6 separate regions of the Homo sapiens genome follow, and all the other regions are linked to region 4. The links come from fine-mapping of genetic effects on gene expression. A gene starts in region 4. Each other region holds a variant in brackets. All regions are shown on one strand. Distances are from middle to middle. Region 1 overlaps KDM4B (lysine demethylase 4B). Region 2 overlaps KDM4B (lysine demethylase 4B). Region 3 overlaps KDM4B (lysine demethylase 4B). Region 4 holds the start of KDM4B (lysine demethylase 4B). Region 5 has its middle 11 kb from the start of PTPRS-AS1. Region 6 overlaps KDM4B (lysine demethylase 4B).

Region 1 (5,068 bases), 160 kb before region 4:
TTTCCTGACAGGTGACAGGGAGGGGACAGTTGACTCATGTGTTTGGTGGCATTTTACTTTGGGGCCAGGACGGGTTTGCAGTAAATAAAATAAAACTGGGATGAGCAGCCTGGCTGGCTGAATCACAGCCCCCAGAAGCGTGCGGGTCCCAACTCTCCTGGACATGTGGATGTGGGACATGACAGAGGGACATGGGGGACTCTGGCAGAGGGGACTCTGTGGGTGGGACTGAGTGAAATGGGAGGTGATCCTAGATGATCCAAGAGGCCCGATGTCCTCACAAGGCCCTCACAAGATGAGGCGGGAGGGTGAGAGTCAGAGAGAGACTGGAAGAGGCTGCGCTGTGCCTGTGAAGGGAGAGGAAGGGACTCGAGCTGAGGGATGCAGGGGCCTCTAGATGCTGGGAAAGGTTTCTGTCCTGGAGTGCCCAGGAGGGCCTGTCCCTGCACACAGCTCCATGTGAGCCCAGCGGCGCTCTGTGTCGGGCTGTGGGAAGCTCGTGCCGGGGCAATCCCTCTGAGGGCCGCCGCACTCAGGGTAAGTTGTGGCACGGCAACTTGGAGCCCTGTCCTCGAGGAAGACCAGCCTGGCCGCACAGCACACTGTGGACCCCAGAACACCGTGAGCCCTGGGGCCCTGGGGCCCTGCCTGCTCCATCTGGAGGAGGGGGACAGGGGCTCAGGCCCCCACCTGTGTGTCTCCAGGCCCTAAGGCTCTTGGGACATTCTGGAAGGAGGAACCGTGGTTGATATCCAAGGGATTCTTGGGCTGTGGGGCTTTCAGTGCTAAAACTGGAAGGTCCCAAGCAGATCAGGATGAACTGGTCACTGCTAACATTTCACCACCTCCACCTCCCCCAACAGGCTGGAAAAATAAGGAAAAATTAAGAGAAGGAAATTCATTTCTGCACACTAAACTGTTGACCATGTGGCACTTAACGGGGTCTGGTTTGGAGCACAGCGCCCACATCTCACCACTTGCTATAAAACCCACCACGGGCTGCCCCCAGCTCCACAGTCCGTGATGCCAGGACCAGTGGTAAGCGCTGAGACCCTCAGCAATGAGGCTCCCAAGGGCCGAGGGTGACACTTAACCCTTGACCCACACTGACCCCAGTAAGGGTCAAGTGAGGACCCTCCCCCAACAGACCCTGCAGCCAGGAGGAAGCCACACTGCCCCACACACTCCCACAAGGGGCCCCCAGCCCACAGCCTCCCCCAGGAGTGGAGGCGGCCCTGCCCTCCCTGCTCCAGCTCTCCTCCCCACACCCTACCCAGCTCCATCTGCAGGCTTGGGGGACCGCCCACGGTGTCCTTGGCAGGCACACGCCCACCTGTTTCTCAAGAAGGACAGGCGAGCAGCCATAAGGTGAAGGCAGCCCCCGCCACTGCCCTGGCCCCCACCCCTGCTAGTCCTGAGCATTCTGGGGCACTGGGGGCACTGGCCGGGCTCCTCCCTGACCTCCACCCCGGCAGGGGAGCCTGGAACACCCCCAGGTCCTGTCTGGCCTTGCAGGGAGCGCAGTCTTCCCCTCCGCTGGTATCCGGGCCCCCCGCTGTTATATGACCCCCCCCCCCGCCCCCCGCCTCCACTGTTATCTGGCCCCTCAGCTGTTATCTGGCCAGGGGAGGTAAACACTGGACACAGCAGACAGGCTGGCGTGGGAAGAAATACTTTTTCCCTGCCGATGCCAGAGGGGAGGCACCCCCTCCCTGGGAGGCTGGGAGCAGAGGCGTGGAGATGCAGAGGGGAGGGGCCGGAAGCTTCACCAGGGCTGGAAGCTGGAGCAGCCCGGGGAGGCTGCAGAGGCCGCACGCCTCACCCCGAGCGCCTGTCAGGAAAGCCACTGTCCTGCGTGTGTAAAAGGCACTTGAGGACAAACAGCTTTGTTCCCCTAAGGAAATCCAATATTCCTTCGTCCATGATAGCGCCTGCCCAGCCTCACTCAGGACTGCAGGCTGCGGTGCCCATCCAGCCTCACCGGGGACTGGGACTCAGGCCCCCCACTGCTGGGCCGGCTTCCCAAGCCGGGTTCAACTTCAAGGGCAGGGGCTGGCGTGGGATCTGGCCCAGGAGGGCCCCACCTGGGGCATCGATGGTCTCAGGAGAGGGAGGAAGATGCCAGGACACAGCCTCACGGCCTCCAGCTGCAGGGCCACTCAGTGCACACATGAGGAATTGGGGAAGGAGGCGAGGAGGAAACACTCATCAGAGTCCCCAGCCGGCACCCCCACCCACCCCTCACACACAACAGGCAGCTCCGCACACAGGGGACTCCAGCCGGGGCTGTGGGGGCCAGGGACACAGAGCCGGGCTGTCCTCACACACAACAGGTAGCTCCGCACACAGGAGACTCCAGCCGGGGCTGTGGGGCCAGGGACACAGAGCTGGGCTGTCCTCACACACAACAGGCAGCTCTGTGCACAGGGGACTCCAGCCAGGGCTGTGGGGCCAGAGACACAGAGCCGGGCTGTCCTCACGAGACCACAGGTGCCTGCTCAGAGGGTCCCTGGGGAGTCCCCGCCTCTCTAAGGGGCTGGCATCCTCCCCCGACCAACGGGGCCTCCTGGGAGCTGAGGGGCGGCTGGTGTGACCGCCCCAGGCCCTGGTTCTGCTCGGGAGGCAAGGCTGGGTGGGGAGCTGAGGCCACCAT[C/T]GTCCCCTAGGCCTCCCGGGGGCTGTCCTCTCACCAAGGGCCACACTGTAGGGCTCTCTCCCTCCTCCTCCAAGGACAGGGATGGCCCCAAGTCCCGCTTCCCCACAGCCCTCCCTGGTTGGCTGCCTGGTTCTGTCTCCCGGAGGGACCAGGCATGGGAGACAAAGTGGGACATAATTTGAGCCTCAGGTGCCCGGCTGATGAGTGCCACCCCATCCCCTGTCTGGAGACAGCAGTGAATGACAATGGCGGCAGCCTCAACGCACTCCACGCATAGCCCGCACCTGCTGGTGCCCTGGATTCTCAAACTCACAAGAACAAGTTTCCAGCCCTCTCCCTGTCGGCTCCCAGGCTCAGTGAAGCCCGGGCAGACACACAGGGGACCCTGTTAGAGGGAGATGCCCAAGGCTAGGAAGGACACCCTGAAAGACGGCGGCACACCCCGCAGCCATTCCTCGGGGCTCTGTCCTTGCTGTGGGCCATTCCTTGGGGCTCTGTCCCTGCCATGGGGACTACACTCCACAGGGACCTTGGCACGCCCCTCACCTGCCTGGCCTGAGGGAGGGAAGCGGGTGAGGGGCTTCAGGACAGAGCAGGGACCATGGTACAGATGGGGCCCAGGATGCACCCAGGCCCCCGAGGGCAGCCAGCTGAGGCCCTGCTAGCACTCTTTTTGGGTGGAGGGAAGGTGTCACAGCGGAAACCCCACCACCAGGGCTCACTAGCCTGCCTGGTGGCGAGGCCACTCCTCCCCAGCGCCGGGGTTTCCACCAGAGCCTCCAGCAAACCCCAAGACAGGCCCGAGGCCCAGGCTGCCCTGTGGAGGGGGCAAGAAACCACCCATTTCCAAGGACACCACTCTGTTCCTGCTCCGAGGCTGCCGAGATCAACTCACCAGCTTCGGCCTGGCTTATGGGGCCCCTCCCTCAAGTTTCGTGCTTGGCTTCCATGCCTGGGCCAACCAGCCCCGGTCTCAGGGGCTCTCTGGCCACCCCCTTCAACACTGCCACCCTCCCGTGCTGAACCCGCAGCCGGGTGCGCCTGACGGTCCCAGAGGCCCAGCTGGGATGTGCTGGCGGGTCCCCGGGCTGAGCTCACAGCCCCTCACTATGAGCTGGGGCCGCCCTCCAGACATGGCAGCCTTTGCTTTCCGTGTTCTAAAACCAGTCACCAGCCACGAGGCCTCTCCTGAGAGCAGCACTCCGGGGCGAGGGGAGGGGAAGGGCTGGGGGCTGGCTGCCCCACTCACCGCAGCCTTTCCACCCTCTGGGAGGCAGGACGGCACTATGCCAGCCCTCCTGGGTCCCCATCCTGGCTCTGCCCCCTGACCCTGTGTGTCCTGCACTGCAGGCCTTCTTCCAGGAGGCGGGGCCTCCCCGGAGGCTCAGGAGAGGTGGACGAGGCCGCCTTCCTGCTTTCTGCTTGGTTCTGGGGTTAGGGCTGGCTGGTGGGGCTGCTAGTCCCTCCTAGCGCTGGGCAATAGGGCGGCCGCTCTTCCCAGACCTTGAAGCAGCCAGTAAGAATGGGATAGGGGACACCAGCAGCCACTGGGAAGCAGCCTCTCAACCGCCCCCCAGGCACCTCTCCTCCTGAGGGGCTTCCTCCCCGATGCTGATGCCCCCTGGCCCCTGTGAGCAACAGGTTCTGGCCCCTTCCCAGCTTGTTCCATATGAAAACACAAAACCCCACACCCCACTGCTAGGCCCTGAAAGGTGCCTCAGCGTCATAGCTTTTAGGGGCGTGAAACTGGCATTCAAGGAGGACCAGAAACCGCTTTAGGAAATCTTTCCCGCAGCACTGTGGCATGCATTTCCTGTCGTGCCCCTGACTGTGAACATGCATTTATGAGGCTCTCTCGAGATAAACCTCTCGTCCAGAGGCTCCTGGGACTTCGGGCTCCCGGGAAAACGGCTGTGTCCAAGAAAACGCCCACCCCTGCCAGATTGGGTCCTTCCCAGGAGTCTCTGTCGTGGAACAGAGATAAGGGTGTCCAGGGCGGGGGGCGGGGGGTGGGCAGCACCAGTCCTGAGCCCTCCCTGGGCAGAGACCCTGACGTGCCACCAACGTAGCCCCTAACCCTCCTCGCTGGTCCCTGGCCTTTCTGTGGGGGCTGATCCCTTCAGAGACCCGTGGAAGCCACAGGCCTCAGAGATGCACCAGGCCCAGCCTCCTGGCACCGTGACCACTGCACCGGGCGTGTGGACCCCCGGGGATCTCGGGAGGGAGCGAGTTGCCCTGTACATCTTTAAACAGGATGGTGAGTGACCAGGCCAGGGCCTCACCTACGCCAGGCAGCTGGACGAGCCATTGGTTTCCCCTCCCTCCCACGCGGTGTAGGCTTCTCTCCAGCGGGCAACTGCCACTGTCAGGGGAGGAAAGCCGCCCATCCAGCCAGGACCACGCATGGGGAGGGGA
Region 2 (5,068 bases), 66 kb before region 4:
GCACAGGTTTCTTTAGCAAAAGCAGTAACAGCAGCAGCAGCCGCAGCGAGCAGGTGGCTCTCAACTGAGGGGGGGTCTTGTCCCCCAGGGGACACCTGGCCATGTCTGGGGATGTCTGTGGCTTTCACGACTGAGGGTGCTCCTGGCATGAGGTAGATGGAGGCCAGGGAAGCTGCTCAGCACCCTGCAATGCCCAGGATGGCGCCACCCCAGAGAACGATGCGGCCCCAAGTCCACAGTGCCAAGCGAAGAGAAACACTAATTTAGAGTTAAACCAAGATGAGGCCGGTCCCAAGGAAAGGACAGTCCAGCTTAGCGCCGGCTCTTTCTGGAGACTCTCCATGTCCACTATGGCCACAGTGCAAAAGGCGCCTGGGGCACCTGTCCCTGGCACAGGCTGTGTGATGGCAGGGTGCTGGGGCAGCTGCGGGGCTGCCGTTCTCTTAGATTTCAGGGGAGCAGCTGAAGAGTCAGTGAGACACGAAGACATTGAGGAGTGGAAAGGCGAGAAACAGAAACAAAAGGGCCTGTGTCCCAGACACGAGATGTTACTACAGAGAACTGAGTGGTATGGTCAGAGACCCACAGGCCAGCACTGCTCTGAATCACACAGACACTGTCCCCCCTCTCCAGGAAGCCCCAGTCTGCTTCTGCAGGAGGGTTCCATGAACCTGGCCCGGCTCCAAATCCACGCCAAAGCCGCTGGCCGAGGGGAAGCCGTGAATTCGCCTCTTCAGTGCTATTAGAGGAAACTCGCCCATGATCCTAGTCTGCTAAATGAACAAAAACACTTCGCTCCCGATTCCTCTGCTCTTGAAAGAACGCCTCGGGCTACATTGCTCATCTGTCCCTTCCACGGCGGGCACTGTGTAGTAAAGACATCTGGGAGCCACGCAGGAAGCTCCAAACACCCCCACGGTGTCTGCGCCGCACACACGGAGCCACACTCTAGGTGACACAGCCCAGGCAGGTGCTGACAGGCAGCGTGAACGAGGGCCACTTCCAGCTGGGCTCAAACCCGAAGGCTCTGGGAAAATCCCGCAGGGCGGAAGAGGACAGAAGTGACATCCCACAATCTGCCGAGACGCAAATCCAGAAGGAGGGCTCCAGGCGGGGAGGGTTGAAAAGGAGGCACTGAAAGCCGCTCGGGACATTCCTACTGCCACACTCGGGTCTTCCAGGCCTCCGGCGGCCCCTGAAAGTGCCTCACACGGGGCTCCTGGGGGGCCAGATTCAGCTGAGGCCAGGAAGGCGACCGGCCACATGCCAACAGTGAGAGGCAGATGCCGGCGGGTGGTATAGCTGAGGGCAGCCAGGGCCTCCCCTGCTGGCACCCGCCTGGGAGGCAGCTGGTGGGGGTGGAGGGGCACTGGAAGTTCCCACCCCTCCCAACAGGACCCCCGACGGGGCCTTCCAGGGCTCCTCTCACCTCAGTGCTTCCCAAGTGGTCGGGGACACCCCGTGTGGAGGGCCCAGCAACTCCAGTGGAAGGCTTCCTGCACCCAGGGCACCGCCAGCTCCAGGGCCCTCTCAGGGCTGTGCCCGCAGCTCCCGCCCCCACCGAGCTCCATCGGGCCTGCAGATCTCTGCTGGGGGCAGGGGCGATGTATAACCAAACACAGTTTTGATGGAACCAGGAAACCCCCAGCTCCCCCACCACACACATACATGCACGCACACACACAGTGGTCAAGGCAGGCAGACCAGGGTGAGAGGGGGACCCCAACACCCCCACAGCTCGCTCAGAACCAGCAGGGCACTGTGCTCCTTCTCCAAAGAGGCTGGCTGCCCCGAGCCAAGGGCCCCCCATTTGGAAGACGCAGGGCTGCCCAGGGCCAGAGCAGATGCTTCCCTGAGCCCATCTGTCCCCACAGAGCTGCAGAAGGGGGTGTGCGTGTGCCACATGCGGGTGCCAACGTGACTCTGCAGCTGCCAAGCTCTCTGGGCTGTGTGAGAGCTGCCTCCCCACCTCAGTCTCCTGTGCGCGCAGGCGCGCGCGCGCGCGCACACACACACACACACAGAGACACGTGCACACACAGCCCCTCCACAGCATGGGACCCGGACGGCCCCCTACTGCCCAGCCCCCTCCACGGGTTTGAGAAAGGATTCTCTGCACTGGTGCAAGGAGAAGCAGCATGGGAGCTGCCGCTGCAGAGGCATGGGAAGGAACACGCAGAACGCAAGGCAGGGAAACCATACTCCCCACACTGGCTTAAGACGCCGGTGCCAAGAATCTCGGGGGAACTGGCCTGGGGGGAGTGCAGAAACCTGAAGCAGCGACATGAGGGCTCAAAGAGGCGGCAGCCAAGGAGGCAGAGGGAGGGAGGGACGAAGCGGAGGTGCCAGCGCGGGGGAGGACAGGCCACCCGGGAACCCAGGCTGCACCCAAGGCCGCCACGTGGAGGGCAGAGAGAGCCGGAAACACCGGGGCATGGAGCCCGGTGGGAGGTGAGGGATGAGGAAGAAGTGACGGGGCGGGCATTTAAAGGCACCTCGGAAGAGCGCAGGGCGGTCTGAGATGCTGATTCCCCTCAACGTCCTGACATCAGGACGCCTTGGATCCCAAGCCAGAAAGGGCTGCTGCATCCTGGGAAATGTGGAAGTAGGTCAAGGGCAGGAGACAGAGGCAGATGCGGTGCCAGGATAAAGGGAGGCGACGCCTGTCCCACCTGCCCTATGTGCACCAGGGAGAGGAGGAAGAGGAGGACCTGGGCCTTTCCTGGGATAGCAGCCTGTGGCCTAGAGGGCCAGAGAAGACGGTCTGAGATGAGATAGGAGGACCAAAGCCTTTTAAAGACAGAACTGAAGCCGGGACGGCAGCAGCCCCCACCGTTCTGACCCGGACACAGATGTGCCATCATTCCCACATCGTCATGGTGTGTTACAA[T/G]CAAAAATCCAGCTTGGTGGTGCACACCTGTGGTCCCAGCTACTCGGGAAGCTGAGGCTGGAGGACTGCTTGAGCCCAGGAGGTCAAGGCTGCAGTGAGCCGTGATCGCAGCACTGCACCCCAGCACCCCAGCCTGGGCGACAGAGCCAGACCCCCTCTCAAAACAGAAAAAACATCCATCTTGGAGGGGAAGAAAAGATGGTGCGAGACTGCTTCCCTCGCTCTACAGCTCAGAGACAAAGAAATAACAATGCGAGTCTGATACCGAAGGATCACTAGGAGAGAGACGAAGGCTACTGACAAAATCCACCAAAACCAGGGAGTGGAGGGAGGGGCAGGGTGGAGGCGGCCCGGAAAGGCAGGAGGCCTCAGCGCTCAGCAAACTGCGGCCCTCGGGCCGAATCAGCCCCTTCCTGCTTCTGTATAGCCTTTGAGTTATGAAGGCTTTTGTTTGTTTGTTTTCATTTTTAAGTGGTTGGGGGAAAAGAAAAAAGCAGAAGACGTGAAAACAATACGCGTTTGCCCTCCAGCATCCAGGAATAATGTTGTATTGGCACAGGGCCGTGCACTTTCATTCACACGGCGTCTGGTTGCTCTTTCTGGCTCACAGAGCCTAGGCGTTCACCCTCTGGCCGTGTGTAGAGACTGCCCGCCAACCCCTGGCCTAACTGAGGAAGAACAGCGATAGTCAAACAGCAGGCAACTGGAAGAACCCAAAATGCAACGACGATTCATCTTCCAAACTGAGGGGTGAGCACTGCTCGAACAGGCCCACACCCGAACACAGAGACTCACGGACCACGGCAGCCACCTTCAGAGCCGTGAAACGTGCAGCACCAACTTTTAAGTTTGTTTTGTTTTGTGAGACAGAATCTTCCTCTGTCGTCCAGGCTGGAGTGCAGTGGTGCAATCTCAGCTCACTGCAGCCTCAACCTCCCTGGCTCAAGTGATCCTCCCGCCTCAGCCTCCCGAGTAGCTGGGACCACAGACATGTACCAACACCACGCCTGGCTCATTTTTGTATTTTTAGTAGAGATGGGATCTCACTGTGTTGGCCAGCTTGGTCTTGAACTCCTGGCCTCAAGCAATCCCCCTGCCTCAGCCTCCCAAAATGCTGGGATTACAGGCCTGGGCCACCATGCCCAGACGAGCAGAATGGTACTGTACATACTCAGCATGTGGGGTTCGGGGGTCTGCTGTGTGTATTCACGTACACGCGTGCACAATATGCCGAGAGAGAGAGAGAGAAGAACCAATAACAGTGCTGCTTCCAGGGAGAGGGTGGGGGACTGGGTCGGGACAGGGAGGAGGCTCCTGGTCACTATGTACCTGCGCTGTCGCCCTGTTTGAGTTTTCCTGACCCAGTCACTCTGCCATCTCAAAAAGATTGTTTCTGGTGTGGTCTGACTTGGTTTTTGAGACAGGGTCTTGCTCTGCTGCCGGGGCAGGAGCGCAGTAGCACGGTCATAGCTCATTGCAGCCTCTAATTCCTGGGCTCAAGCAATCCTCCTGCCTCACCCTCCCAAATAGCTGGGACCACAGGCATGCACCACCATACCCAGCTTAAAAAAAAAAAGTTTTACTAGGAAAGTAAGGCCTTCCTGGGCACTGAACACCCCTGGAAGGCGTCCCTCAGTGAGACGTCAGCTCACGGCCAGAACAACCTGGTGGCCCACTGCCCCTGGGCTTCACTGCAGTGTGGCTGTGTGTCCTCACCACCCCCTGCCAGCTCCCTGGAGCCAGGGCCTGCACCGGCCACTTCTCAACTCCAGTGCCTAGAATGGTGCCTGGCACATTGTTGGAACTCCACAAACAGGCGCTGGTAAACGAGCTGGGAGTGGCCCCGAAACACATTCCACGTGCACAGGCCACGCCTGTGGGGCTGGCTGAGCTGGGACCCAGGATGTCCGCAGGCCCGCGGCGCAGGCTGATGGAGGGCCGCGCTGGGGCCAGGATGTCACCCACCTTGGCCAGGCCCGCCCGGTGGGCTCCCTGCGACTCTATGTAGGCCACGTATTTGTTGAAGTCTTTAAATTCTTCCATGGTTGGGCGAAACGTCATGATTTTACAGCTGGGGTTCTGGGCGCCGTGGTCCTCAGACCCCATGGCTGCAGCTGTGCGGGAAGCACACCTGTGGAGGAAGACGAGAGAGGGTGAACCAGCGGTGCCGCCATGCCC
Region 3 (5,068 bases), 37 kb before region 4:
AGAAAAAGAAGAAACAAGGAGGCAGGGAACAGCCAGGGTTTTCTGGATCTCAACTAAGAAGGCTGTAGTCTCATCAGCTAATCTGGGTCTCTATATGTTAATGTAAGAACCATATTATTTTTCCTTAACATCTACACTCAAGACTAGACAAAAAATAATTCACGGTTATGAACCTACAGTAATCAAGACAGCATGGTACTGGCATAAGTACAGACATTAGATAAACGGGAGAAAGCTGAGAGTCCAGAAATAAACCCACACGCTTAAAGTCAGGTGATTTTCAATAACAGTGCCAAGACCACTCAATGCAAAAAGAACAGTTTTTTCAACAAATAGTGCTGGGACAGCTGGATATTCACACACAAAAAATGAAGGTGGACCCTTACCTCACACCATATATTTATACTAATTCCAAATAGGTCATAGATCTAAATGTAAGTGCCCAAACTACAAAACTCTTTTTAAAAACTTTTTGTACCAACAGTATCTTCCTATGTTGCCCACACTGGTCTCAAACTCCTGGCCTCAAACGATCCTCCCAACCCACCCTTCCAAAGCATTGGGCATATAGATGTGAGCTAGTATACCCAGCTCAGAACTACCCAACTCTTAGGAAAACCATAGGATTAAACCTTCGTGGCTTTGGATCAGGCAAGATTTCTGGCTAAAACACCAAAAGTGCATGTGGAAAAAGAAAAGTTGTTTGCAAAGACCTCAAGAAAGTGAAAAGACTTGGCTGGTCATGGCAGCTCATGTCTATAATCCCAGCACTTTGGCAGGCAGAGGTGGGAGGATCACTTGAACACAGGAGTTCAAGACCAGACTAGGCAACACAGCAAGATGCCATCTCCACAAAAAATAAAGAAGAAAAAAATTAGCCAGGCATTGTGGTGCACACCTGCAGTCCCAGCTACTCGGGAGGCTGAGGTGGGAGGATCGCTTGAGCCTGGGAGTTGGAGGCTGCAGTGAGCTATGTTTGTGCCACTGCACTCCAGCCTAGGAGATGGAACAATACTCTGTCTCAAAAAAAAAAAAAAAAAAAAAGAGAGAGAGAAAGTGAAAAGACAATGTACAAAACAGGAGAACATATATTTGCAAAACATTATCTGATAAGGAACTTGTATGCAGAATATGTCAACAACTCTTGCAACTCAACAAAAGACAAACAACCTAACAGAAAACACGGGCAAAGGATGGAGCAGACATTTCTCCAAAGAAGATACAAAAAGAGTCAACAGTCACAGGAAGAGATGCTTGACATCACAGCAATGAAGCAAGGGAGAAGAGGAGAGGCCAAAACCATGCCGAAAATGACAGAGGAGCCAGTGGGCTTCCAGGACCTTCTAGAAACCTCTCCAATATGGCAGAGCCTGGCCAAGAGCTGCCATTCATATTCCAGTCCTGAGATAACTTTGCTACGTTCCCCAACTCTCAAATGGGAGATGGAGGTTGGCAGGGGGTGCTCACGAGGGATGGTGGGGACAGGGCCCTCCCCCAAGGCCCTTCTAGAAGATTCCGCCTCCCCCGTTCCGCCCAGGTCCCTGCCCAGGTCTGCGCCTGGTCCTCACCACCCCCGCCCCGCCTCGTGAGCCCCATGCTTCTGCCAGGAGGTGGCTGGGGCCCGCTCTGGTGTCCCCTTGCTGGTGCTCCTCGTTGAGTCACTTCCCAGCAGCCCCATGGGAAAGGCACTGTTGTCACTCCCACTTCACAGAGCGGAACATGGAGGCCGTCCCAAGTCCCAGAGGTGCTAACCCAGGCTGTCAGCTCCAGGGCTGGTTACCCTCTTAACTCACCATATCTTTTTTTTTTTTTTTGAGATGGAGTTTCGCTCTGTTGCCCAGGCTGGAGTGCAACGGCATGATCTCAGGTCACTGCAGCCTCCGCTTCCCAGGTTCAAGCAATTCTCCCGCCTCAGCCTCCAAAGTAGCTGGGATGACAGGCATGCGCCACCATGCCCAGCTAATTTTTGTAATTTTAGTAGAAATGGTGTTTCACCATGTTTGCCAGGCTGGTCTTGAACTCCTGACCTCAGGGGATCCACCTGCCTCGGCCTCCCAGAGTGCTGGGATTACAGCCATGAGCCACTGCACCCGGCCTAACTCACCATATCTTAACCAACACATTTCCAGTTGCCAGGGAGATAAAACCCCAGCCAGGGCAGATGATGTGGCAACACGAGTCAGAAAGATGCGGCGGAGGGGCCTGGAGTGCCAGGAAGGACAGTGAGGAGGGGTGGGAGGAGCAGGAGAATGGCCGTGGGCTGCGGGGAAACAGCAGGAAGTGAAGCCCCCACAAGCCCAGGGGATGGGGGTTCCGCTCTGAGGATGGGGTGCACACTACCCAGAGGCAGGGTGGGGTTCCAGTAGTGGCGGGACAGACGGGGACAGGGAGAGGCTGCGGGGAGCCAGGCATGAAGAGGGCAGGCCTGCAGCAGGGATGGAAGGAAGGGAGGCGGGACCAG[C/T]ACCATCCTGGCTCCCTGCCGCCGCCACCAGCCCCCCATCCTTCTTCTCTGTCCTTCACTAAGAGAACATCAAAAACTGTCCCCTACCCATGAGCCCTCTCCCAGGACCCCCACAGCCCCCAGATCAGGTGATGGAGGCCCTGAAGTGCAGCACGAGACCACTGGGATGAGAAGCCACCTCTTGTGACCCAGCATCACCACTCACCTCCGCCAGAGGAGGACGCGGTGACTGCAGGGGCGACCCCTGCCCCTCATATCACTTAGACCCCCAGGGCCAGTGCCAAGCAGGGGGCTCTCTACCCCACATCCCTCCCAGCTGTGTGGCGAGGCAGCCGCTGGAGAATGGTGGGGACCTTCTCCCCCGTGGCCCTGTAGCCTCTAAGAGCGATCTTAGAGGGACGTCCTGGGTGAGGACATGGTACAGAGCACAGTCCCCCAAGGCCTGGTCCCAAGACCACTGAATGCAGAAAGAAAAGGTGTTTCAACAAACAGTGCTGGGACAACTGCTTGATATCCACATGCAAATAAAGGAAGGTGAACCCCCACCACCCACCATGAGGCCCGGAGGAGGGTGAGGCCCCCACCTCTGGGGCCTCAGTTTCCTCATCTGTAAAGGGGGCTCCCCATGTTAACACCCTCATCGTGGGGTCTTCAGGAAGCTCAATGAGGTCCCCTAAGTGGCAGCTGTCACCATCCTGTCACTCAGGAGGCTGACCAGCAAGTCCAATGACACGACAGGTCACAGAGGCCATGGAGGAACAGGTGCCCACACTGATCTATGCCCCAGTGGCCTGGCAGCACCACTGGGAAGGACGGTTTGGTAACATCTTTCAAAAGCACCTGCCCCTTCTTGCCAGCTGCCCCGGGCATCTGTGTTCTCCATACTTGTGCCACCTGGCCACCAACATCTCCACAGGCCACTCCTGTAGCCTCAGATGTCATGGGGTGACAGAAGTCCACCATCAACTCCACACACAGCCACAGAGTGGGCTGCACAGACGCATCTCCAAGCTTTGTGCTGGATCCCTGGGACAGCAGCTATCTGCCAGGTGACGGCCGCAGGACAGGCCGGCACACACAGAGCGCGCAGAAAAGGAAGACGCTACACAGGTACCTCTAGAAGGGTTACCACTTCCAGGGGTGGGAGAATGAAGCCTGGGGAAGTGGGAGACTGTGCAGGGGGTGACCAGCTCGTCTCACTTTGCCCGGGATGCTCCTGGTTCCGGCACCAAAGCCTTACGTCTGTCCCATATTTGCATGTCTCTGGGGTCAGGCTGGGGGCTGTAATCTGAGGGCTGCCTGGACAGTAGGGAGTGTATTCCGGAGGGGAGCAGGGGTGGCCTCTGCCCAACACCCAGGGGTACTGCCCACCTGTGACCATTAAAATATAACCGCCTTCCTGCCCCTCTGTGGGTGACTTCTCACGCTCACCGCACGGGGGTACGGGGACTCCCAGGGAGCACAGAGCCGTGGTGCATCTCACAGTCAAGCGTTCTCAACTACATGAAACTGGGGAGCTGAAACGTGCACGGCAGCACACATGCACACCGGGTCACAGGGACTGGCTGTGTCTAGACACTGCCGAGCGTCCCCAGACAACATGCCTGGCTGAGGGCATTGCTCTAGGAAGCTGCCGGGCTGGGGTGGGCCTGACGATCCGTCTCTGGATCGTGGGTAGAGGTGTATGAGCCCGGGGGGCAGCAAGGGCTGAGAAGGGCCAAGGAGCTGGCGGGATGCGCGGTGAGAACAGGCCCACTGTGGGCCATGCACTCCAGGCCGGGTGAGGAGGGAGCGAGGGCCTGTGGCAGGGCAAGAGCTGGGAGCCGAGCACACGAATGGTGGAAAGTGCCAGGGGCCGGCGTGTGGAAATGGCGAGGCCATTGCACTGGAGGGGTTCCCACGAGTCTCCTTCCCCCAGAAGAAAAGGACTTAGGAGAATCCTTAACCTCATCCTTAAGTCTCTGCCAGCACACCCGCCCTCCAGGACACACGCCATCCACCGCCCTAGCCGTCCCCAGTGCCAGCTTTACTGCCACGTATTAACTTCAAAGAAGCATTTGTGTACCAAAGTACACAGAGAAATGCACAAACTCTAAAAAATAACACGAAACAGGACGCGCAGAGGGGAGCCAGACGCACCCAGGCAGGAGACAGCATTCTCAAGCGGCTGAGCATCCGACCGCGGCCAACAACCCACGGGGCAGACCTGCTGTGGAGAGACGAGGAAGACCAAACACAGACTCAGGCATATACGGAGACTGTGTGGGGGACAGAGGGGGTTCCCCAAGGCAGTGGGGTAAGCAGGGACCTTTTTTTTAGACGGGGTCTCACTCTCGTCACCCAGGCTGGAGGGCAGTGGCACAATCTCAGCTCACTACAACCTCCACCTCCCGGGTTCAAGCGATTCTCCTAACTCAGCCTCCCAAGTAGCTGGGATTACAGGCGCCCACCACCATGCCCAGCTAATTTTTGTATTTTTAGTAGAGACGGGGTTTCACCATATTGGCCAGGCTGGTCTCAAATTCCTGACCTCTAGGGATCCACCCACCTCACCCTCCCAAAGTGCTAGGATTACAGGTGTGAGCCACTGCACCTGGCCAAGCAGGG
Region 4 (5,068 bases):
TCCCCGGCTCATCAGGGAGTGGGTGGGGCATAGGACAAACGGGCAGGAAACCAGCAGAGGAGACAGAGAAATTAGGAATTAAAGTACAGGCAGAGTGGTCAGGTGGGAGAGAAGGACACAGAGGACGGCCCCTGGCCACCCCAGAGGGCTCCTGCAGGACGGGACAGGGACTGAAGACAGGGCAGGAGGCTGAGGAAGGGTCTCTTCCACGAGACAGAAAAGTACAACAAAGGCCAGGCGGGGTGCTGTGCGGTGGCTGATCAGCTATACCTTTAAGCGCCAGCAGTTAACATCTTGTTAGCAGCCCCCTCCCCAAAGAGGAAAGGGTTAGAAAATGCGAGCAAACGGATTGTTACTAAGACATATATATTTCAGGTCTCAGCAACTAAACACACACGTGCACACGCAGGCACCCGCAGCTCCTGACACAGTAGACGCTTCCACCAAAACAGCCTGTACACAGACACCCGTCTGTGCGGCAGAATCTCCGTTACCCCCTTTTCCTCCCCAGCGGTGACCTCCTCTAGGCCAGGACAGTCTGACCCGTCCTGGTGTCGCCGGCTCAAGGAGGGGGAGCGCCCGGACCTGCCAGGTGTCCAATCAGACACACGGAGACGAGGCTGGCAAGTCCCAGAAATCCTCGGCTCAGACAGAAGTTGACTCTACCACGGCTTTACGCTCCGACCTTCAGGGTTTCAAAACATAAACTGCAAAGCGGAGAGAGGATGCCCACTGCTTCAGCAGGGGCTGCAGGAGAAGGCTGACCCCGTGTGTTGACAAACCCTCCTGGTGGCTCATAAGGAAGCTATTATTGGAGAATTAGGGGAGTCATTAGCTCCCATAACGGCAGTGATAAAAGCCCATAGGAGTCGTCTAATGAGCCTGCTTTAGGACTGGTGCTGTTTTTAGGAGCATTCTCCAGCCCGGGGACATTCTGATAAATGGCCATTGAGGCAGAGGACTGGGGCAGGGCACCGATCCCTTGAATTCAGTCCAGTATCCAGAGATCCCAAGACAGTGCAGGCACCCGGTGGGACCCAAAGGAACTTGCTGAATACACGCCCCAGCCAGAAACACATGGAAAAAGACGCTCTTCACATATGACAGGATCACTAGGCTCCACGGAGCTGAACCACCTTCTCACTAGTTTCACAACTCGGGGAACACTTCCTCACAGGGTGCTGGTAAATTATTAAAACAGAAGCATCCTCCCCCAAGCAAACAGATGGGATGCACCCAAAAGCAGTCCATGCCTCCACTGCCCCCAGGGGCGGAAAACATGCCCCTTAAAACCTTCCACCGTGCCCAGGTGGACAGAGTCCCCCGTCCTGCCTGATTGTCATGGCCACCACTGAGCGCAGACCTGGGCCCTGGCAGACCCCAGGTCAAGCAGATTTCAGAGCGAGTCCGTCCCCAGCTCCCAGGGGGATGTCCACGGGGGACACAGAAAAGGGGTCTCGGCGGAAGCAACTCCTCAATTCATTTCTCTAGAGCAGGGGCTTCGTTCGAGATGGCGATCAGGCTGGAAGGGGGAGGGACGGAGAGACTCGTGGAGGCTGCCGTTGCATAGCAAGATGATTTTTTTCTAAAATCCAGATTGCATATGCTTATGGCGGGGTGGGGGTTTCGGGTACGTACAGGGGGGCAAGTTTGGAAGCTACCAAGGCATAGCAGGTTGACCGGAGGTGGGGGCAGTGCAGGAGCAATGATAGGCATTTAGGGGGCATCCCTGGGTGTCCAGCTGGGGGGCTTCCCCTTAGCCCCCCTGGCGCCCAAAGGGCCAGAAACGCAGGCGGGGGTTACCCAGGGGCTGGGGTCTTTTTCCTTTTTCTTGCTTTCTTTCAAAAATAATAATAATAATAGGCCGAGGCTTGTCCCGGGTGATAAAAGGGCCCGGCCGGGGCCACCCACGCTGTCATCTTTTGTGCGGGGCGCCGGGGCCGTCTGTGCCCAGCCCCCGCGCGCCCCCGGCCCGGGAAGGGGCCCCCGCTCCCGCCCCTGGGCGCGCCCCGCCATTGTCCGGCCCCGCCGCCCCCGCCCGAAAACCAGCGGGCGCCCCCGGGCCGGGCGGTTAACGCCCCAACCGCCCCGCCGGCCCGGACAAAGCGCGAGGCCCGGCCCGAGCAGGCCGCGCCCGAGGCCTGGGCCTCGAGTCCCGGGCGCGCCCGCAGCCCCGAGCCGCGACGCGGGGGCGGCCATGGCGGCGGGGTCCGCGCTCGGACACGGCCGGGCGGCCTCCCCGTGGGCTCACCTGAGGCGGCGTGCGCGGCCCGGTCCGGGAGCAGCGGCGCGCTCTCCCCCGCCCTCGGCGTCGCACCCCCAGGCCCCGCTCGGGCCGGGCCCCGCTCGGTTGCTGGCGACCGAGCCCTCCGCAAGCGCTCGCGGGGGGGCTTATAAGGCCGCGCGCCAGCTCCGCCCCGACTGCCATTGGCTGCCGGATCCACGCCCGAGCGCCCATTGGCCGGAGCTGACAGCTCCGCCCCTCCCCTCCGCCGGGCCCATCAACACCGCACGGCCCGCCCACCGCGCGCCGCGATTGGGCGGGGACAAACGCCGGCCTCGCCTCTTCATTGGCAGACCGGCGGGGACACGCCGGCGCCCACCCACGTGCCCGCTGACCGGCTCTGTTCTCATTGGAGGGGGCGCACGCCAGCCAAGGCTGCCGCGACCAACCCGACGGCAGCTGGGCCTTGGATTGACAAGGGAGCCTCAGGGCCCGCCCGACGACCGCACAGAGAGGAGCCAGTATTGGCTTGAGGGGCCAGCCCGAGGCGCGGACAGGCTGGGGCAGGTGCCAATCACTGCCCGCAAGCTCCGGGCCCCGCCCTGGTTATCAGGCGGCGGCTGAGTACGTGAGACCCAGCACAGCATCAGCACCGGCCGGGAACGTGCAGGCTGGAGGTTCGAAACCCGTGGCCGGAATGTGGGCTTAGCGTTCCCCAATTTGCAAAGTGCCAAGCAAGGAGACATAGCGATCCGTTTTGCAAAGGAGGAGAACCGAGAACATAGGGTAAAGCAGCAAGAGCCTCCACCCCGCCACCGTAGGTCTATTCCCATCACAATCAACAAACCTTTGCCAAGGGGCAAGGCCTTCGGAATAGTTAGGGTCCCTCTCCCCGAGTTCCCTAAAATGTATGGGAGAGAATGAGCTTTGGTGCTTTCTGACCTGGATTCAAAGCTAAGCCGGGCCCCATGCCTCACTGTGGTTGACCTCCAGCAAAGTAACCTCGCTGAGTCTGTTTCCAACTGTGCAATGGATATGATGGTAGTGGCCACACCCCGTCTACCCGCCTCTTGAGAATGTTGCAAGGATTAAGTGGGATGAGGCACGGAGAAAGATTTGACCCTGTGACTTCACAAAATGAGCATTCATTGTGTACTGGACCACGCAGGGGTGTGAGGCATGCCCCCATTTGGAGTGGCAGGAGTGTAAATTGGGCAATTTGACATTTTCTAATAACATTCTAAGTGCATCCACCACCCGATAACCCAGCCAGCAGTTCTTCCTGGAGGTGATGTACCCAGAAAAAAGGTCTGGAGCTTACACAATTCAAGAATGCCGGCGGCAGGGCTGTCTGCAACTGTTTCCAATGTTTTGCACTAACTATCCATCAGTGGGGGATTAGAGAAGTAACTTAATAGCAATCAGTACTCTGGAATACTTACTATGTAGCAATTGAAAAGGAGGCCAGGCCCGGTGCTGTGGCTCGGGCGACTCACACCTGTAATCCCAGCACTTTGGGAGGTCGAGTCGGGTGGAACACCTGAGGTCCAGAGTTCGAGACCAGCCTGGCCAACATGGCAAAAACCTGTCTCTATTAACAAATACAAAATTAGCCAGGCATGGTGGCGCATGCCTGTAATCCCAGCTACTCCAGAGGCTGAGGCGGAGGTTGCAGTGAGTCGAGATCACTGCACTTCAGCCTGGGCAACAGGGTGAGACTCTGTCTCAAAAAAGGAAAGAAAAGAAAAAAGAGAAGGCCGATCTGTTTGCAAACATGAAATATCTCCCAACCGCTGAGCTAGGGACAGTGGTCCAGAATCCTGTACTCAATAAAATAAATATGGAAACACACACAGAAACCGGTATCATGAGGTTAAGAGCACACAAGCTTGTCAATGCACAGAAAAAGGTACTCCTAAACTGAAGAAACGAACTTAATCCTTGGGGAGAGAAGGAAAGCTGCACACTGGTAAAAAGAGAAGTCAAAGGAGAATTTAAGAAGCTCTGGGTGTTTTAAATTCTTATGGGACCATATTCATATATTCCACATGGAGTTGAGATTTAATTTCAGGTCATGCCTGGAATCGCAGCACTTTGGGAGGCTGAGATGGGCAGATCACTTGAGCCCACGAGTTTGAGAACAGGCTGGGCAATATAGCAAGACTCCGTCTCTACCAAAAAAATTACAAAAGTTGGGCGTGGTGACACGCGCCTATAATCCCAGCTATTCGGGGGCTGAGGCGAAAGGATCACCTGAGCCCGGGGAAGTGGAGGCTGCAGTGAGCCGTTGATTACACCACTGCACTCCAGCCTGGGTGACAGAGTCAAACCCCGTCTCAAAATAAAAAGTAAAAACAAAATTTAAAAACAGGCTGTTGCCCAGGCTGGGTGTAGTGACTCACATCTGTAATCCCAGCCCTTTGGGAGGCCAAGGTGGGAGGATCACTTGATCCCAGGAGTTTCAGGCCAGCCTGGGCAACAGAGCGAGACCTCTTCTCTACTAAAAATAAAAACCGAGTTGATTGTGCGGGCACATGCCTGTGGTCCCAGCTACACTGGGGGCTGAGGGAGGATCACTTGAGCCCAGGAGGTCGAGGCTGCAGTGAGCCATGATCACACCACTGCACTCCTGGGCAACAGAATGAGACCCTGTCTCAAAAAAAAAAAAAAGTGCAATCATGAAGGGAAAGAGTCCCCACCCCACGTACCACATACATAGGGCTTTTTGTTCTACTTCCAAGTATATTCTCTGAGACAGTGGGGGGTGTTTAGATTTCACAGACAATATAAATGTTTTTAACCGAGGAACCCAAATGGGTTCTCCACTTTATTTTGCTTAGACAA
Region 5 (5,068 bases), 200 kb before region 4:
TTTTCTGGGAACACAAGATGCTTCAGGTTTATCTTGTGTTTTCTGTTTTTCTTTCTCTCTCTCTCTCTCTCTTTTTTTTTTTTTTTTTTGTTGTTGAGATGGAGTCTTGCTGTATTGCTCAGGCTAGAGTGTAGTGGCATGATCTCGGCTCACCTCCTGGGTTCATGTGATTCTCCTGCCTCAGCCTCCCGAGTAGCTTGGATTACAGGTGCCCACCACCACGCCCAGCTAATTTTTGTATTTTTAGTAGAGATGGGTTTTTGCGATGTTGGCCAGGCTGGTTTCGAACTCCTGACCTCAGGTGATCTGCCCACCTCAGCCTCCCACAGTGCTGGCATTACAGGCATGAGTCACCGAGCCCAGACCCCCATCGAATCATTCATGTAGGCTGGGTATGGCCAACTTTGGGAGGCCAAGGCGGGAGGATCGCTTGAGCCCAGGACTTTAAGACCAGCCTGGGCGACAAAGTGAGACCCCTATCTCTACAAAAAAAATAAAAAATTAGCTGGGCACAGCGGTATGTGCCTGTACCTTGTCTTGTGTTTTCTCTGTCCCAGTCATAAAATCAGTGATTCCTCCCCTGGTTCCTTTTATTGGAGAATGGTATTTAGATCGGGGTGCTAGTATGCTCACTGCTATTGGGGTATCAGATTAGCCATGTGTACACACATCTTTATTTATTTCTTCTTAACATTTTTCTTTTTGTAGGGATGGGGCTGTGCTATGTTGTCCAGGCTGGTCTTGAACTCCTAGCCTCAAGCGATTCTCCCCAAGCCACCCTGGTCTCCCAAATAGCTGGGATTACAAGTTTGAGCCCTTTCACCTGTATTCATAATATAAATATATATACTTACATATTTATTTCTGCATCTATATGTACTGACTATATATTTCTATAACATCTGTCTATATATATATATTAGAAAATCATGGATTGATACTGACACTTTTTTTTTTTTTTTTTGAGACGGAGTCTCGCTATGTCACCCAGGCTGGAGTGCAGTGGCGCAATCTCGGCTCACTGCAAGCTCTGCCTCCTGGGTTCATGCCATTTTCCTGCCTCAGCCTCCCGAGTAGCTGGGACTACAGGCGCCCACAACCACGCCCAGCTAATTTTTTTTTTGTTTTTAGTAGAGACAGGGTTTCACTGTGTTAGCCAGGATGGTCTCGATCTCCTGACGTCATGATCCACCCACCTTGGCCTCCCAAAGTGCTGGGATTACAGGCATGAGCCACTGCGCCCAGCCTATACTGACACTTCTGATTCCAACCAGCACAATGTTCATTCTAGCCGCTTCCTTTACCCTTGACGTAACTTTTTTCGCTGACAGAGAGAAACCTAGCTCATCTACAATTAATTCACTCATTTGCTCAATTGCAATATTCACATATAGTAGGTACAGATGGCTAAGCCATGAGAACTAGATTTTTGAACTAGAGTATAGTGTTGGTGTATAGGTATTTTCATTTTTAGCCTAACAGTATCCAGTGGAAACATTGTTTCCCAAATTTACTGAGATCAACTCCATTCTTCCCCTGGCTCTTCAGTGTGGTTGATTTTCATTTGTGGTGCAGCTGAGTTTATATTTTACTATTTGTTTTCCATTTGGAGTACACATCATATCCTTGATTTTAATCAGTTATCTTTTAAAGTGTGTATAACATGACTATGATTTTTCAGTCAGAGCTATACCAAATGGTTCTCAGAGAGTGGGCACTCCCTCTTCATTCCTGCTACTCTTTTTCCCATACCACTTCCAGCCTCTTTTTTTTTTTTCTTTTCCTTTTTTGCAACAGAGTCTCCCTCTGTTACCCAGGCTGGAGTGCAGTGGCGCGATCTCGGCTCACTGCAAGCTCCGCCTCCCGGGTTCACGCCATTCTCCTGCCTCAGCCTCCCGAGTAGCTGGGACTACAGGCGCCCGCCACCACGCCTGGCTAATTTTTTGTATTTTTAGTAGAGACGGGGTTTCACTGTGTTAGCCAGGATGGTCTCGATCTCTTGACCTCGTGATCCACCTGCCTTGGCCCCCAAAGTGCTGGGATTACAGGCATAAGCTTCCGCACCTAGCCTTTTTTTTTTTTTTTTTTTTTTTTAAGAGATGGGATCTGGCTCTGTCACACAGGCTGGAGTGCAGTAGCACAATCACGAGTCATTGCATCCCTGACCTCCTAGGCTCAAATGATCCCCCTACCTCAGCTTCCTGAGTAGCTGGGACTACAGGTGTGCACCACCACGTCTGGCTAATTAAAAACAATTTTTTTTTCAGAGATAGGGTCCTGCTATGTTGCCTAGACTGGTCTCGAAATCCTGGCCTCAAGCAATCCTCCCACCTTGGCCTCCTAAAGTGCTGAGATTACAGGCATGAGCCACCTTGCCTACTGCCCTAATTCTTTTAAATAATTTCCCACCTGCCCCTGTAGGTAACCAACATCCTTAGTTTCTTGTCTATCCTTCCCGTATTTCTTTTTCATTGAGGTGAGATTCACATAAAGTTAGCCATTTGAAAGTGAACAATTCAGTGACATTTGACACACTCAGTGCTGTGCAGTCACCAATTCTCTTTAATTCCCAAATACCCCCAAAGAAGACCCTATGCCCATTAAATAGCCACTCCTCATTCCCCTGGCCCCAGCTGCTGGCAACCTACAATCCCCTTCCTGTCTCTGTAGATTGACCTGTCCTGGACATTTCATAGATATGGGATCACACACTGTGTGGCCTTTTGTGTCTGGCTTCTTTCACTGAGCATGATGCCAAGGTTCATCCACACTACTGTAG[C/T]CTGTGTCAGACCCCCATTCCTTTTAATGGCTGAGTGATATTCCATTGTATGGATGGATCACATTGTGTTTACCCATCCATCAAACAACAGACACTTGGATTGTTTCCACCTTTTGGCCACTGTGAATCATGTTGCTATGACCATGGTGTGCAAACATCTGAGTCTCTGCTTCCAATTCTTTTGGTGTATCCTGGAAGTCAGATTCCTGGGTCATACAGTGACTCTGTGTTTAACTTTTTATTTGAAATGGAGTTTCACTCTTGTCGCCCAGGCTGGAGTGCAATGGTGCGGTCTCAGCTCACTGCAACCCTCCTGGGTTCAATTGATTCTCCTGCCTCAGCCTCCCGAGTAGCTGGGATAACAGGAGCTCACCACCACCCCCAGCTAATTTTTGTATTTTTAGTAGAGATGGAGTTTTACCATGTTGGCCAGGCTGGTCATGAACTCCTGACCTCAGGTGATCCACCCGCCTCGGACTCCTAAAGTGCTGGGATTATAGGCATGAGCCACCAAGCCTGGTCTGTGTTTAACTTTTTGAAGGACTCAGACTATTCCCAGGTACTTTCTTAACACCTGGTAATGTTGATGCTGGCATCTGTCTCCTCTAAAGGGCATGGGCTTTGTGGGGCAAGAACTTGCTGTATCCTCAGTGTCTGGCTCCCCAGTGTGTGTGTGGGCTTGGGAAAAACTAGCACAGTGCAAGGGCTCAGTAGCAGCTGGCAGAATTGATAAGACTGAGAGGTGAGGCCAACTGGACTTCCTGGGTCGAGCGGGGACTTGGAGAACTTTTCTGTCTTACAAGAGGTTTGTAAAATGCACCAATCAGTGCTCTGTAAAATGGACCAATCAGCACTCTGTAAAATGGACCAATCAGCAGGACATGGGCAGGGACAAATAAGGGAATAAAAGCTGGCCGCCCCAGCCAGCAGCAGCAACCCGCTCGGGTCCCCTTCCACGCTGTGGAAGCTTTGTTCTTTTGGTCTTCATAATAAATCTTGCTGCTGCTCACTCTTTGGGTCCGTGCCACCTTTAAGAGCTGTAACACTCACCACGAAGGTCCGCGGCTTCATTCTTGAAGTCAGCGAGACCACGAACCCACTGGAAGGAACCAACTCTGGACACATCTTGGGGGCTTGTCTGGGATATCGCCTTTTGGTGAGTACCATCGGACCCATTTTGCTTGCTATTCTGTCCTATTTTTCCTTAGAATTCAGGGGCTAAACACCGGGCACTTGTCGGCCAGTTAAAAGCAACTAGCGTGGCCACCAGACTAAAGACACTGGTGTCGGGCTTTCTGGGAAAGGGCTCTCTAACAATCCCCAACTCTTTGGAGTTGGGAGCGTTGGTTTGCCTGGAACCAGCTTCCACTTTTCCTGTACTTCCGGACTGAGCCAAGTGTCAACAGAGAGGAAAGCCATTTAGCTCCAGGGCCCTGACAAAAAGTTGGTTGACCCTGCAGCCATGAGCGGAACTCTCAAAGTCACGTCACCCAAGCGAGACTTGCCCATTTATCCTATCTATCCTGACCCTTGCCTCCTGGGTCCTAATGCCTGTCAGACATACTTCCTCCCACCTCTCCTCTCCGAGGCTAGTCCTGTTTCTAAAAACCACTCCCTGTCTCTGGTGCTTTTCTAGTTTCTCCTATAAGAACGACTTCTAGTATACATTTCAGGACTCTGTTCCTTTCTTTAGGCATCTGGGCTCACCAATCAGAAAGACAATCTTTGCCCAAAGCCCTGTCAGTGGGGAGACTATCTGGAATTTTAGGATCCCTCCTCAGACTAGCAGGCCTAACAAAGGCTATTCCCAAAGCTAGGATATGGGGAGCCTCAGAAATGATATCCTTCCTATTCACATGATGAGAAGTGAGGACAAAAGGCATCACTCTAGAGATCCCTTCCCTCCCTCAGGGTATGGCCCTTCACTCCATTTTGAGACATAACATCTTTATAGAACAAGGGTAAGGTCCCAATACTAACAGGAGAAAATGCTTAGGACTCTAACAGGTCTTCGAGAATGTGTTGGTAAGGGCCACTAAATCTGTTTTTTCTCAGTCTTCTTTGTGGTCTAAGAGGAAAGGCAAGGATGCATGTTTCCGAGAATGCATCAGTAAGGGCCACTAAATCTGACCTTCCTCAGTCCTCTTTGTGGTCTAGGAGGAAAACTAGTGTTTCTGCTGCTGCTTCGGTGAGCGCAACTATTACGATCAGCAGGGTCCAGGGACTGTTGCAGGTTCTTGGGTGGGGGAGGGGGGAAAACAAACCAAAACTGCGAGCAGTTTTTCTTTC
Region 6 (5,068 bases), 180 kb before region 4:
CATTTTCAAACAACATAAGAATACAGTGTCAGCGCCACGCCGGGCGAGGGCTGCGTGCAGAGGGACACCTCCACGTTTTGGCTGACACCCCCCAACCTCCCCGACCCCGGCCCTCTCCAGGGCAACCGCCCCCCTCCCCCACCAAGGAAATGAAAGGCTTGCTCCTGCGTAACACTCTCTCTGTTTTCCTTAGTCCTCTCTAGCCCGGGGACTGTTAGGACACTCTTTTATAATATAAACATTGCTTTTTTTTTTTTTTGGAGACAGGGTCTCGCTCTGTTGCCCAGGCTGGAGTGCAGTGGTGCAATCTGAGCTGACTGCAGCCTCAACCTCCTGGACTCAAGCAATCCTCCCACCACAGCCTCCCGAGTAGCTGGGACCACAGGTGCGCACCACCACACCTAGCTAATTTGTAAAAAATTTGTAGTGATGGGGTCTTGCTATATAGCCCAGGCTGGTCCCAAACTCCTGCCTCAGCCATTTTTTGTTTTTAATATAAGCAAATTATCTCCTCCATCCCTCCCTGGGGCAGGAGACAGCTAAGGTGGGGAAGGCTCCCCAGAGGGGTGCAGAGCTGGTGAGGGAGAGGCACCTGGAGAAGGCGCTTCCCAGCCTGGGCTGAAGGCCGTTTTTTCTCTATCAGCTCAACCCACTCCTAAGAAGCAGATTCCCCTCAGGTGACAGCAGCGTGGGTGGGTGGAGCGAGGACACCAGGCCTCGTCCCTGCCCGGAAGCAGGCGAAAGGGGCCCCGAAGGCCTGCCTCGGCCCTGTGTCCCCCGACCTGCTCAGGGTTGTACCCGAAGAGCTGGGAAGCTGTCCACACTCACTACCAACCAGAAGGGCCTGGGGGCCTCCCTCATCCTGAGCCATAGGAGGTGCAGGGGTGCTTTGTCTGCAAGGAAGCCTCTGGAACACCTGCGTTTCTCTCAGGTGAGAGAAACAAAGATAGACAAACCCCAGGAGAGAGTTTATTCTGCAAAGGTGGGCGCAGACGGAGGGAGGCCCCAGACCCCCGGGCTTCCCCTGGCCAGGTGCACAGGGGCGGCCACCAGAGAGCCTGGGCCTCCTCCCAGCAGGCACAGAGTGGGCACAGGCACTGGCACCAGACCATCAAAGCCCAGGAGCCGGGGTGAGGCGAGAGCGAGGCCGTGAGTGACCGGGCTGTGCCGAAACCGGGGCGTCCTGCCCCCCCCCCGAGGCTCACCCTCCAATTACCGGGTCTCTTTCCCTGCCTGGTCTGTAGCCAAATCATAATATTTTAAAACAACAACAAAAAAACAGCGAGATGCTCTGACCTCTCAGAGAATCCTGGTTCTGAGAAAAACAATGTGTTTGTTTTGTTTTGTTTTTCTTAAAGCCACAAATCTAGAAAACAACTTTGGGGATATTTTCCTTTGTTTTCCTTTTTTTCTTGCTTTTTTTTAAACAATATGTATTTATAGAAAGAGCCTCACAAAGGTGGTTTATGTACAGAAGTGACAATCTCAAAGGTTGCTCAGTAGGGCATTGCAGTAGCACCTTTTCGAGAAGAAGAGAGCTTACATGGTTTAAAATTCTGAGTAGTTGAGTGGGGTGCTCCCCTGGCCGGCCCCCGAGCCCGCCTGGCCCTGCTCCCTGAGTCTGGGGCCGCGTGCGGCGTCCCGCTGGCTCCTGTCGCCCTAGGGGGCACCCGCGGCTTGGAGGTGGCCTCTCGGGGGTCGGGGACACGAGGACAGGAATTCACAGCAAGCGAACGCCCGGGGCATGCCATGGCCTCCCCGCCGGGCTGAGGGTCGCCTGAGCGGCCAGCTGTCCTAGAAGGGGGCTCCGGGCCGGCCCTGCACCTGCAGGAGGCTCTCCACGAAGGCCACGTAGTCCTGGCTCCGCCCGGAGTCCTCCGTGGCAAGCGGGGTGCCCACACGCGGGCGCTTGGCGGCCTTGGCCTCCTCCCCCGAGAAGGCGGGCTCCTGCGGTGCCCCCGTGCTCAGTGACTGCGGGAGAGCGGAAGCACAGTGGTTAGCACGGTGGAGACACTCTGTGCGGCCCCAGCCACTGTCTATGGCCTCTGAGAGGAGCTGGCTGGACACAGAGCCCTGATTGCTGTGGGGGCTGCTCAGCAGGCTCCTGTTTTCGTGTTTGTAAACCCCTGATCCTGCCAGCAGAGGGGCCCTGCACTCGGCCCCAGCCTCTGGCCCCCTAGTGGGGTGGGCACCCTGGCTGGGGCTGGGACCGTCCATCTGGCAGCTCCCATCTGTTTTCCGAGGGACCCCTCTGCGGCTGAGCAGCTGTGGCCAGGACCAGGAACCTCCCCCACGGGCTCTGCCCCTCAACACCTCGCCTCTCGCCTCTCGATTAGAAAGAGAATAAAGGAAGCCCATGAGGGCTGGGGGAGCGAAAGCTGGAGCTGCCTCCGCTGCCTCCAGGACTCAGGCTCCCGTTTAATAAGGAAAAACCTCAGGAAAAGCTTTTTTAAGCCGACAACTGGGGTGCCCGTACTTCGCCTGTACCCCAAAACCTGTGATGGTTCAGAGGCCGCCCTGTGCAGGGTGGGGCAGCGCGGGTCCTGCAGGGCACAGGGGGCTGGGAGGGTCTGTTCTGCATTC[G/C]TGATAAGGGGAGGGGCGGGGCTTCTCCAACCCTCCCTCCCCACATTAACGGCATCGCCCAGGAGCTGCGGCACCAGGAGTCAAGGCAAAGGAAGGGTCTCCTGCCAGGAGCCCATGGACCAGCTGTGCTGGGGCGGCCGGGACCCCCTTCCAGCAGAGGTGCAAGAGGAGGGGGTGGTCCACGCCATTGGAAGACGCAGTCTGTGCCCTGCCTCGTCCCAGACGGGCTCCCTGAGTCACCCGGAGCCACCAGGCCAGCCTCGCGCACTCACCAGCCGAGAGCGGACCCTCTTGGGCAGCTCCTCCTCCAGGGTGAAGATGTCCCCACGCTTCACCGTCAGCTGGGACCCGTCCTCAAACTCCACCTGCAGGGGGATGTGGCTCTCAGGGGCCTGGCACTGCCAGGATGGCAGGTGCTCCAGGCAGGCCACGGCCTCAAGAGCTGGGAGGCCAGCCCCCTTGGGTGCATGGGGCCCGCTAGAGGCCACATGCAGCCAAGCTGAAGCTCATGTCCACCTCTGACACCGCCTGCAGCAAACAAGGATCAGGCTGAGGGTCCCGTACCACGGGGCAAGGATGACGGAGGACGGGACAGCCTGGGGCAGAGGCAGGGCCCCGCAGCTTCCACATGGAGACAGAACACTCACCCCTCACCTCCTCCCAGCTCAAAAGACATCTGTCTCCATGAAGACACAGCCCCAGGACAAGGTGACAGAGTCACTGGTGGACACAGAGCCAGGCAGGAGGCGCAGTGCCCTAACAGGGCCTGGGAGGCAGGGGAGGCCGGACAGGCGGACTCAGGGGCCTGAGCTCAGGAGCCCCCAACCAGAAGGTGAAGGACAGGGTCCCTGGCTTATGTGTGGCCCTCTGAAAACAGCTCAGTCACCTCTTCCCTTCAACTCAGAGAAAAATCACCCCCTTCCAGCCTCCCCAGCTGGTGCCTTGTTCCAGGTGGCAGATGCCTGACTGGTGAGGGGCACTGGGAGCACCCCGCTTCCTCCTCGTTAAGCTTGGTGCCAGCTCAGGCTCGCGGAGACTCTCTCAGGGGCCCTCTGGCAACACAACACTGTCCCATGAAGGGCGTGCCAGGGAGGGGCGTGTCTCCAGGCCCACCTCATAACTGCGATGGGCGCCGTGTTCCCAAGCCAGGAAAGGTGCTGGGGTCACTCCCTGGGCCTGACTGCCGTTCTGCTCCAGGGGGAGAAGGTTCCCATATCAGAGGGCTCGCTTTTCACATTTAAAAACTCAAAACAAGCCAGGCATGGTGGCATGTGCCTGTGGTCCCAGCTACCCAGGAGGCTGAGGTGGAGGCTGTAGTGAGCTCTAATTATGTCACTGCACTCCAGGCTGGGTGACAGATCAAGACCCCGTCTCAAAATGAACAAAATGCACACATAAGACTGTCACAGAAGCGTACAAAAGTCACACACTAAGACCATGACGGAAGTGTATAAAAGTCACACAGTAAGACCATCGCGGAAGTGTGTCTGGGGCTAGACGCCCCACGTAGTGTGCAGCGGGGGGGCCCGGGATCGCAGCACCTCCCTCTCCAAGGGAGCACAGACCCTGCCTTGGGGCAGCCAAGCCTGCCGGTCCCTGTGACTCCTCCAGGGATGGGTGGGGATGGAGACAGACGTAGGCCCTGGAGCAAGTGTCTGCTGTGGGTTCCACATGCCTCTTGGCCGGCGCAGGCGGCGGGAGAAGCAGGGCTGGGAGTGCCCAGTGTGGACTCTCAGATGGCCGGTTGCCTCTGGGCCGTGTCCTGGGACGACAGCACACATCTCTCGGGGATGTGTGGAGGAGCCTGCTGGGAACCAAGGACATGGGTGCCACCCTCTGCCCCGTCCTACCCATCTCATTTGTAGAGGAAAGCCACCGGGAGAAGGCCCCTTCCCAGCGTCTGTCCGGTGAGGAGAGTCTGGGTGAAGGAGTCCTAGTGTCGGAGCCCCAGCACCCCGGAAAGCGATTTCCACCCCCGGCGTGGCCAGGCTCCGCTTTGCCACGGGCAGCAGCGGGTTTTGGAGGCTCCGCTTTGCCAAGGGCAGCAGCGGGTTTTGGAGGCTCCGCTTTGCCACGGGCAGCAGCGGGTTTTAGAGCTCCCACTGCAGGAGTCCCAGGGCCCACCTGCTGCCTTTCCCCAGCTCCCCGGCCCCGACTCGGCCTCTCGGCTTCTGGCAGGCGTGGCACACAGTGATTCAGTCAGGCACAGAAGCAGCCTTGCCAGGAGGGGAAGGCGCGTTCTAGAAACTCAGTGGAAACTGGCTCAGGTTTCTGGGTCAGGAAGACTGCAGAGATCCGCCCCAGATTCTCAGGAGCACAGAACCGCCTAGGAGGATGGCGCTCACACTGCCGGGTCCAAGTGGGCTCCAGGGAAACTTCTGTGCCTGGGTCATTTGGGAACTGGGGGCTGACTGGAGACTCAGGCTGATTTCCTCCCAGTGGCCTCCCTGGAACGTGCTTTCACTATGAGTCTCCACAGGGCGAG

What was found.
Region 1: its variant is fine-mapped to the expression of KDM4B in whole blood (TOPMed, PIP above 0.99).
Region 2: its variant is fine-mapped to the expression of KDM4B in whole blood (TOPMed, PIP 0.96).
Region 3: its variant is fine-mapped to the expression of KDM4B in whole blood (TOPMed, PIP above 0.99).
Region 5: its variant is fine-mapped to the expression of KDM4B in whole blood (TOPMed, PIP above 0.99).
Region 6: its variant is fine-mapped to the expression of KDM4B in whole blood (INTERVAL, PIP above 0.99).

What each region holds. Positions count from the first base shown.
Region 1 is chr19:5,125,370-5,130,437 of GRCh38, reverse strand. All of the region lies in intron 11 of KDM4B (lysine demethylase 4B), which reads right to left. Among named protein-coding and RNA genes, the nearest start is that of PTPRS-AS1, 50 kb to the left of the region's middle. RefSeq lists enhancers at 1-253, 254-790, 791-1,328, 1,329-1,864, 3,205-3,274 and 5 more and silencers at 1,273-1,322, 1,353-1,402, 1,646-1,810, 3,745-3,834. The variant C/T (reference allele first, on the strand shown) is at 2,654.
Region 2 is chr19:5,032,819-5,037,886 of GRCh38, reverse strand. It overlaps KDM4B (lysine demethylase 4B), which reads right to left. Exons shown (of 23, transcript NM_015015.3): 3 at 4,856-5,021. The coding sequence starts at 4,996. Among named protein-coding and RNA genes, the nearest start is that of KDM4B, 66 kb to the right of the region's middle. RefSeq lists an enhancer at 636-1,210. The variant T/G (reference allele first, on the strand shown) is at 2,891.
Region 3 is chr19:5,003,519-5,008,586 of GRCh38, reverse strand. All of the region lies in intron 1 of KDM4B (lysine demethylase 4B), which reads right to left. Among named protein-coding and RNA genes, the nearest start is that of KDM4B, 37 kb to the right of the region's middle. RefSeq lists an enhancer at 3,765-4,265. The variant C/T (reference allele first, on the strand shown) is at 2,462.
Region 4 is chr19:4,966,414-4,971,481 of GRCh38, reverse strand. KDM4B (lysine demethylase 4B) reads right to left here and starts at 2,369. Exons shown (of 23, transcript NM_015015.3): 1 at 2,252-2,369. RefSeq lists an enhancer at 880-929 and silencers at 2,196-2,495, 2,806-2,905.
Region 5 is chr19:5,164,232-5,169,299 of GRCh38, reverse strand. No RefSeq gene overlaps it. Among named protein-coding and RNA genes, the nearest start is that of PTPRS-AS1, 11 kb to the left of the region's middle. RefSeq lists a silencer at 3,521-3,740. The variant C/T (reference allele first, on the strand shown) is at 2,780.
Region 6 is chr19:5,148,238-5,153,305 of GRCh38, reverse strand. It overlaps KDM4B (lysine demethylase 4B), which reads right to left. Exons shown (of 23, transcript NM_015015.3): 22 at 2,856-2,948; 23 at 1-1,971. The coding sequence ends at 1,795. Among named protein-coding and RNA genes, the nearest start is that of PTPRS-AS1, 27 kb to the left of the region's middle. RefSeq lists an enhancer at 1,271-2,042. The variant G/C (reference allele first, on the strand shown) is at 2,584.